2 linked regions of the Homo sapiens genome follow. The protein of the gene in region 1 interacts with the protein of each later gene in a pairwise test. Each region holds a gene or a part of one and is shown in the gene's direction. Other genes may lie near its edges.

Region 1 (3,500 bases):
TCTGCCTCCAGGCACAGTAAGAGAGAGAACCTCCAGGTTGTCCAGAAGCCCGGCCAAATGCGCTACTCTCCTCACCTGCCTGGTCCGACGGCTGAGGTCTGGCCTGCTTGTTGTATTACCATCTCTTTTCCCAACAGGTCTCTGAGATCTGGCATGCATATTTGAACAATCACTATCAAGTCCTCTCACAGGCTCACATCCAACAAATGGATTTACTGGGCAAACTATTTGAGAATGACACTGGCTTGGGTAAGTGGCAGTTTTCCCTGAAGGGAGAGCAGTGACTTCATCTCACCCAATACACAGACCTTGTCCCTAAGAGGGAAAGCAGCTGTCCCTGTCATGAAGCACACCATTGCCACCTTCCCCATGTTGCTGATGGAGAAAACTGAGACACGGGGATCAAAGAGATTTTACCAGTGTTGGGAAGAATTCAGATCCCTATCATCACACATAGCCATTCGGGGGTTACTAAGGGACAGATTTAGAGGGAAAAAAAGACCACATCAAAGCCCCCTGTGATTTCTGCAGAGCATCCATTTCTATGTTATCCCTCCAGGGCAGCAGTCCCAATCTCTCCCTGGCACCAGGGACCCGTTTCATGGAAGACAATTTTTCCATGGACTGGGGGGCGTGGGAGGAATGGTTTCAGGAGAATTCAAGTGCATTACATTTATTGTGTACTATGTTTTTATTATTATTAATATATTGTAATATATAATGAAATAATTATACCATGCATCATAATGTAGAATCAGTGGGAGCCCTGAGCTTGTTTTCCTGCAACTAGATGGTCCCATCTGGGAGTGATGGGTGACAGTGACAGATCATCAGGCATTAGATTCTCATAAGGAGTGTACATCCTAGATCCTTTGCATGCACAGTTCACAATAGGGTTCACGCTCCTAAGAGAATCTGATGCTGCTGCTGAACTGACAGGAGGTGGAGCTCAGGTGGTAATGCAAGCAATGGGGAGTGGCTGTAAATACAGATGAAGCTTTACTCGCCCCTACCACCCCTGCTCACCACCTGCTGTGCAGCCCGATTCCTAACAGGCCACAAAACAGTTCTGGTCCATGGCCTGGGGGTTGGGGACTCTTGCTCCAGGACACGTAAGCCAAGGTAGACTCTACACAGAAGGTGCATTGCTGATTTCTTCTGGTGCCTTAACTTCATGCTTTACTGAACAGTGAGCTTCTCAGTGGCAGGGCCCAGTTGGATTAAACTGTATTCCCCGGGCCAGCAAAGGGCTAAGTGTTGAATAGTACCGTACAGCATCATGCCCTCAGAGACAATGAAAAGACACAGAGGATCTAGTTTCTGCTCAAAAGAGACATACAGTGCAGTTGGTGATATAGAACCTATAGGCAATAACAAAAGAACATTCCTGTGAGTACAAATTATGTTACAAGATGAGTCCCAGAATGAAGAGGTGAGGACAGCTGGGTGGTGTTGAAGAAGGAAGACTCTTTGGAGGAGAGGTTTTGAGCTAAAGTTTAAAAAATTAATAACTTTATTGAATTTTCTCTCATTATGTAAATAGTTCATGTTATAGCTGAAAACTTGGAAATCATAGATATCCAAAGATAGCCAACCTTAACATGATGGTGTATATCCTTTTCGTCTTTTTCTCTAAGCTTAGTACTTGTATAAGTGCTTTTAAATGCATGTAGTGACTTCTCAGTAAATGATGACTAAAGTAGGACCAAAAACTACTGGGGAAAATAGTAAACAGACTCTCAGAGGGAAGCATGAAGGTTGTTGCTTACGCATCTATGGCCTAGACGAGAAGAGTTAAGCTGCTGCAGCTGCAAGAAGTCCCTTCCCCCAGTTCTCTCCTCTCAGCTGTAGAGTGGAATCTGAGTTGGACCCAAGGAATCTGCCTGTGGCAGATTATCTGTGTTTGTAAGCCCAAGAGATCTAGAGTTCAGGACTCCGAAAGAGAGAAACCTTAGCAACTTTGGGACCTGTGGGAGTGAGCCTATTTTTAGGCTACTCTGATAATGGCATGCTAAGCAAAGCTGGAAAGCGGTCTGAAACTCCTGCTTCGGAGCTTCCTGCTTTGCACCTGGAGGGAGTCCTCTAGGTAAAAAACTTGCTGTAATTGGTGCTATTTCCACCAGTGCCCTTGGGAAGGCTTCAGCAGACCAGGCGCTTTAACAGCTGAGTGCTTTTGATGAGGGCAGACTCAGTTGCCAAGAGCCTGTTTTTTCTTTCTTCCCCTTCCAATGCAGATGAAGCCCAAGAAGCAGAAGCCATTCGCATCCTGACTTCAATCTTGAACATTCGAGAATCTACATCTGACAAAGCCCCCCAAAAAACCATCTTTGTTCTGAAGATCCTGGTCATGTTTTACTACCTGATGATGAATTCTTCAAAGGCAAGTTTCCCTAAAAAAGCAACACGTCTAAAATGAAGGTAGAAATTCAACTAGTTGAACTCAAAATTTGTGTTTTGCCCAATTCCAATAGCTTTTGCCCTCAGAGCAAGCCCTCACTCCAAAGAGGTTCAGATGCTCACGATGTTTCTCCTGTGTTGAGTCTAGCCTGCATAATGGAAATTGGATTGTCTTCTTCCCCCGAGGGTTCCCAGTCTTGCATAGATAAAGAGAGTCTGAGGCAGTGCTGGGAAGCCTGCAGGGCAGGAAGGCTCTGGGGAGCCTTGGATGGATGAAGTAGCCGCTCTAACTCCACTCAGTTACTGAGTTCCCTGTTGCTGCGGGGATTCAGGCAGAAATGCATTGCCATGAAATGATTCAAAAAGTAACTTTTTGAGTACTTTTACCTACCAGTTATTGGCCTAAACCCTTTACATAATTATCATACTTAATGCTTACACCAACATTAATGAGGTAGCTATTTTATTATCTCTACTTTACAAACAAGGAAACTGAGGCACCGAGAGGGTCAATTCTTTGCCCAATGTCTTACAGACAGCAAGTAGCATATCTCAGGTTTATTGACTTATTGGTTGATTCTCTCATTCATTCAAACATTTATTGAAAATCTACCATTTGTAAAGCACTAATCTAGGGACTGGGGATACAGTGGTGATCCATACGTTTCCTATCTCTATGGCACTGGTGTTTTTTGGAGGAGTGGAAATAAACATATGTATGTGTAATATAATTTCAGATAGTAGAAACTGTTATAAAGAAAACTAGCCAGGCACAGTGTCTCATGACTGTATTCCCAGTACTTTGGGAGGCTGAGGAGGGATGATTGCTTATGTCCCGGAGTTCAAGACCAGCCTGGGCAACATAATGAGACCCACTCTCTACTAAAAATAAAAATAAAAAGATCAGCCGGGCTAGAGGTGTGCACATGTAGTCCCAGCCACTCGGGAGGCTGAGATAAGAGGATTACTTGAGCCCAGGAGATTGAGGCTGCAGTGAGCCGTGCTTGTGCCTCTGCACTCTAGCCTGGGTGACAGAGCAAGATCCTGTCTCAAAAAAAAAAAAAAGAAAAAGAAAAAGAAAAGAAGAAGAAGAAGAAGAAAAA
Region 2 (3,500 bases), on another chromosome or scaffold:
TCCTTAGTCACTGCTTCCTTCATGCCCCTTCTGTGATCAAAAATATGATTGCTCCTTAATCCATCTCCCTTTAGTTTGTCTCATCTCCCTATCACTTTTCTAACTTTATGTTCCATGCCACCCTAAAGCGAACTTGTTTTTCAGTTCAGGCTCCTTGTATTGCCCCAGGAACATGCCATTTTCATTTCCAATATGGTCTTGTATGAACGATTTCTCCTTTTGTCCTCCCATCTGCTTATCCAAGTCCTGACTATTGTCTAAGGTTTATCTTAGTTCTTAACCATTGCCTCAAAACCTTTTAAGCTTATTGAGCATCTACTTTTCTTTACCTTATAAACATTCAGTTTTTAATTTAGTACTGACTTACATTGATAGTGTTATTTTTGCCACTCCACGGATATTGTGAACTCCTCAGACCAGGCATCCCATTGTGTGATACTTTCGTATACTTCATAGAGGCTAGCACAATGCTGAGCTCAAAAACTAGTTGTTGAATTTCAGTAAAAGTAAGTAGAGCATTTTTCCCAACATTAAAAGTTAGTGGGCATGAGATGACATTCTTTTGGTCTACTGGGAAAAGGGTATCTGACTAAAAGTTAGAAACACTTTTATTTTGCATAAAAATGTAACATTAAAACACAGAAGGAAAAAGAAAATGAATTCACTGAATTCATTTGTCTTTTCCATTGGTTCGTTGTCAATGTCTGATGTCCTGGCCATAATGGAAAAAACAGTTGGCATAAAAGACATGGGTTGAGACTGGCTCTGTCATTTAATATTGGGTTCTGAAAAAAGGCCAATCCTGAGTTGTAGCTTTCTCTCTGTAAAATGGAGTTAATATTACTCTAGATTATGATGAAGATGAAATTAAGTAGTGGATATGGAATGCTTTGTAAATTTGAAAGTAATGTAGAAATCTTGGATAGTGTTGTTGTGTTCCCATCTTGGATGATAGCTGTGAGTTTGCATTTTACAAAAATAATGGATATCTAGAATCACTATAAATAATGATCTACTGACAGTAACTGCTTTGATATTTCCAGGTCAGATTGGCTTTCTTGCCTCTCAGGAGGAGATAGACTTTTACTCTAACAAAGTGATGACCTGGGGGTTTCAGGGCATGCTTCCTGAGGAAGTGACATTCAGACCTGAAGGATGAGTAAAGCTAGTCAGGGGAAAGTATGAGGGAGGGGATAAGGAGATGACGGAGAAAGAATAACTACACTCTGGGAACTGAAAGAAGCTTCATCTAGATGGCTGAATGTTGTCATCTGAAATTGATTGCTTAATCCTGTTAATCCTTTTGATTTTAATTCTTCATGGAAGTGATCTATTAACATTCCTTTATAGCAACAATTGAATAGAATTTATTAACATCTTTTTTTCCTTATCTAGCACAGGTATATTTACTTACTAAAGCCAAAGCGAGAATCTTTTTCTTTAGACATTGTTCCATTGTATTGTGTTCTCTTTAGTTGGCATTTCCTCTGTTGCCATCAGTTACCTCCTTCATGTCCTTTTTGTAAACTATTAAGAGAATTAGAAAATTGGTGTTGGACAGGTTTTTGTTTGCTCTTGTCTGTAAAAACATGGCATGGTTTGAGATGTTTGGAATGGGTTCATTTGGTAATGTTAGGGACCGCTCATTTCTGCTTAAGAAGAATGGAGAGGAAAAACTGGGGAAATATTAGGGTTGGGAGTTCTGGAATAGAAAGCATTCAGAATGGCACTTAGCCTACACAGACTCTAAGTAGGTAGGGGCTGGATAAATGAATGTTCTACATTAGTATAGGCAGAACACATTAAGAGAAAGGAAGACAATGAAAGTGAACAACAAGCTGGTAGGTTAAGGTCCATATGCTGATGATTAGGAACTAAAGCCTCTAAAGAAAACAGGCATCCATGAGGATGCGGGAGCTTAGAAATCTCTTACTAACTTTAACTTTGCTAATTGATCCTTTGATATCATATAGTTTTATATTCATGTATCAGAACTTGCTAACAACCTCAGTAAACTTCATTCAGTTCAGTCCCATAAACAACAACAAAAAAATTGCTACTTATTTCTTGTAAACCATATAGAAGATCTGAGGGATACTTTACAGAGGGATAGGTCAGGCCTGGAAAAAAAGCCCTACCCTCAGGCACTGAGCTAATGGAAGAAAGACCAGGCATTCTCAGTATTTGGCTTGACTTGTAAAAATGCCATTCAGAAACTTGTAGGGAAAATCTGCTTTTAGCACATCACTAGTTGTTGCAGTATTTTTCTGCAATAATCAAAAAAGGCAATTGAAGACAAGGGTTAATCGTTACCAGGTTCTTTAATGCCAGTAAATATGATTGGTGTTAGAAATGTATGCTGACTATAACATTTATTTGTTGATTTTTTTTTCTTTTTTTTTTTTTTGAGATGGAGTCTCGTTCTGTCACCCTGACTGGGGTGCAGTGGCGCGATCTCTGCTCACTGCAACCTCCACCTCCCCAGCTGAAGTGATCCTCCTACCTTAGCCCCCCAGGTAGCTGGGACCACAAGTGCGTGCCACCACACCTGGCTAATTTTTGTATTATTTGTAGAGATGGAGTTTCGCCATGTTGTTCAGTCTGATCTTGAACTCCTGAGTTCAAGCAATCTGCCTGCCTAGGCCTCCCAAAGAGCTGGGATTACAGGTGTGAGTCACCGTGCCCGGCCAGGGAAGTTTTTTTAAACATTTTATTAGTAGTACTGGGTTTATTTTGAGCTATTTATTTTTTCTCTACATTTCCTTTTGAACCAACCACAAATTTGTGAGCCAAGTGATCAGTGGTAGAGGTTCTCTTATTGTGGAATAGAGTTTTGCTCCTGGTGAAGTATAGAGCTCTGTATAGCTAGAATAAAAAATACTGTGAATATCTGAGAAATGTAAAAGATTCTTTGTTATTTTTTAAATCGCCTTAAGAGATAACTGGCTGCTTAAGCAAAAATAGTAACAATGTATTATGTTGTTTCTAAGCAATTTAAAAATATTGTATAACAGCAGCCCAAAAAATGAATGGGAAAGTGGAAATACATATGCAAGGCTCTTAAAATACATGTGCAATGGGCTAATATCACTTGAAGACTGACTGTGATAAATTAAAAGATGCATTGGAAAATAACAAAGGAGTACAGTTAGTAAGACAATAAAGCAGATAAAATGGAATTGTAAGAAATAATATATAAAGAAGTAAAAAAAAAAGTGAACAAAGTGTGATCATTGAAACAAGGAGTTAATGTTCTGTGGGCTGTTTTTTCTGTTGTTGTTGTTGTTCGTTTAACTCACTCCCTACTCTTAGAGCTGAGCGTGAGGGTGGCCTGTATTCCTTTGTATCCAAAGTATTGGTAGGTACCCTTTCTAGAAGAACTCAATTCTGTACTGGAAGTCTTTCGCCAGTACTCAGGATATCTCTCACTTTCTACAATACGCCGTTTTACAGCCCCCACATTCACTCTGCACCTATCTCTATCCCTTCATTAGTACTTT

What was found.
Region 2: the proteins of ZMYND12 (region 1) and ARMC8 interact in binary tests that used the Homo sapiens proteins (3 or more experiments, as listed by UniProt).

Annotation. Positions count from the first base shown.
Region 1 is NC_000001.11:42,432,023-42,435,522, reverse strand, and holds part of ZMYND12 (zinc finger MYND domain-containing protein 12), read left to right. Parts: intron 1-137; coding exon 138-249; intron 250-2,234; coding exon 2,235-2,380; intron 2,381-3,500. UniProt on the Homo sapiens protein: Required for sperm flagellum function and male fertility.
Region 2 is NC_000003.12:138,218,301-138,221,800, forward strand, and holds part of ARMC8 (armadillo repeat-containing protein 8), read left to right. Parts: intron 1-3,500. UniProt on the Homo sapiens protein: Component of the CTLH E3 ubiquitin-protein ligase complex that selectively accepts ubiquitin from UBE2H and mediates ubiquitination and subsequent proteasomal degradation of the transcription factor HBP1.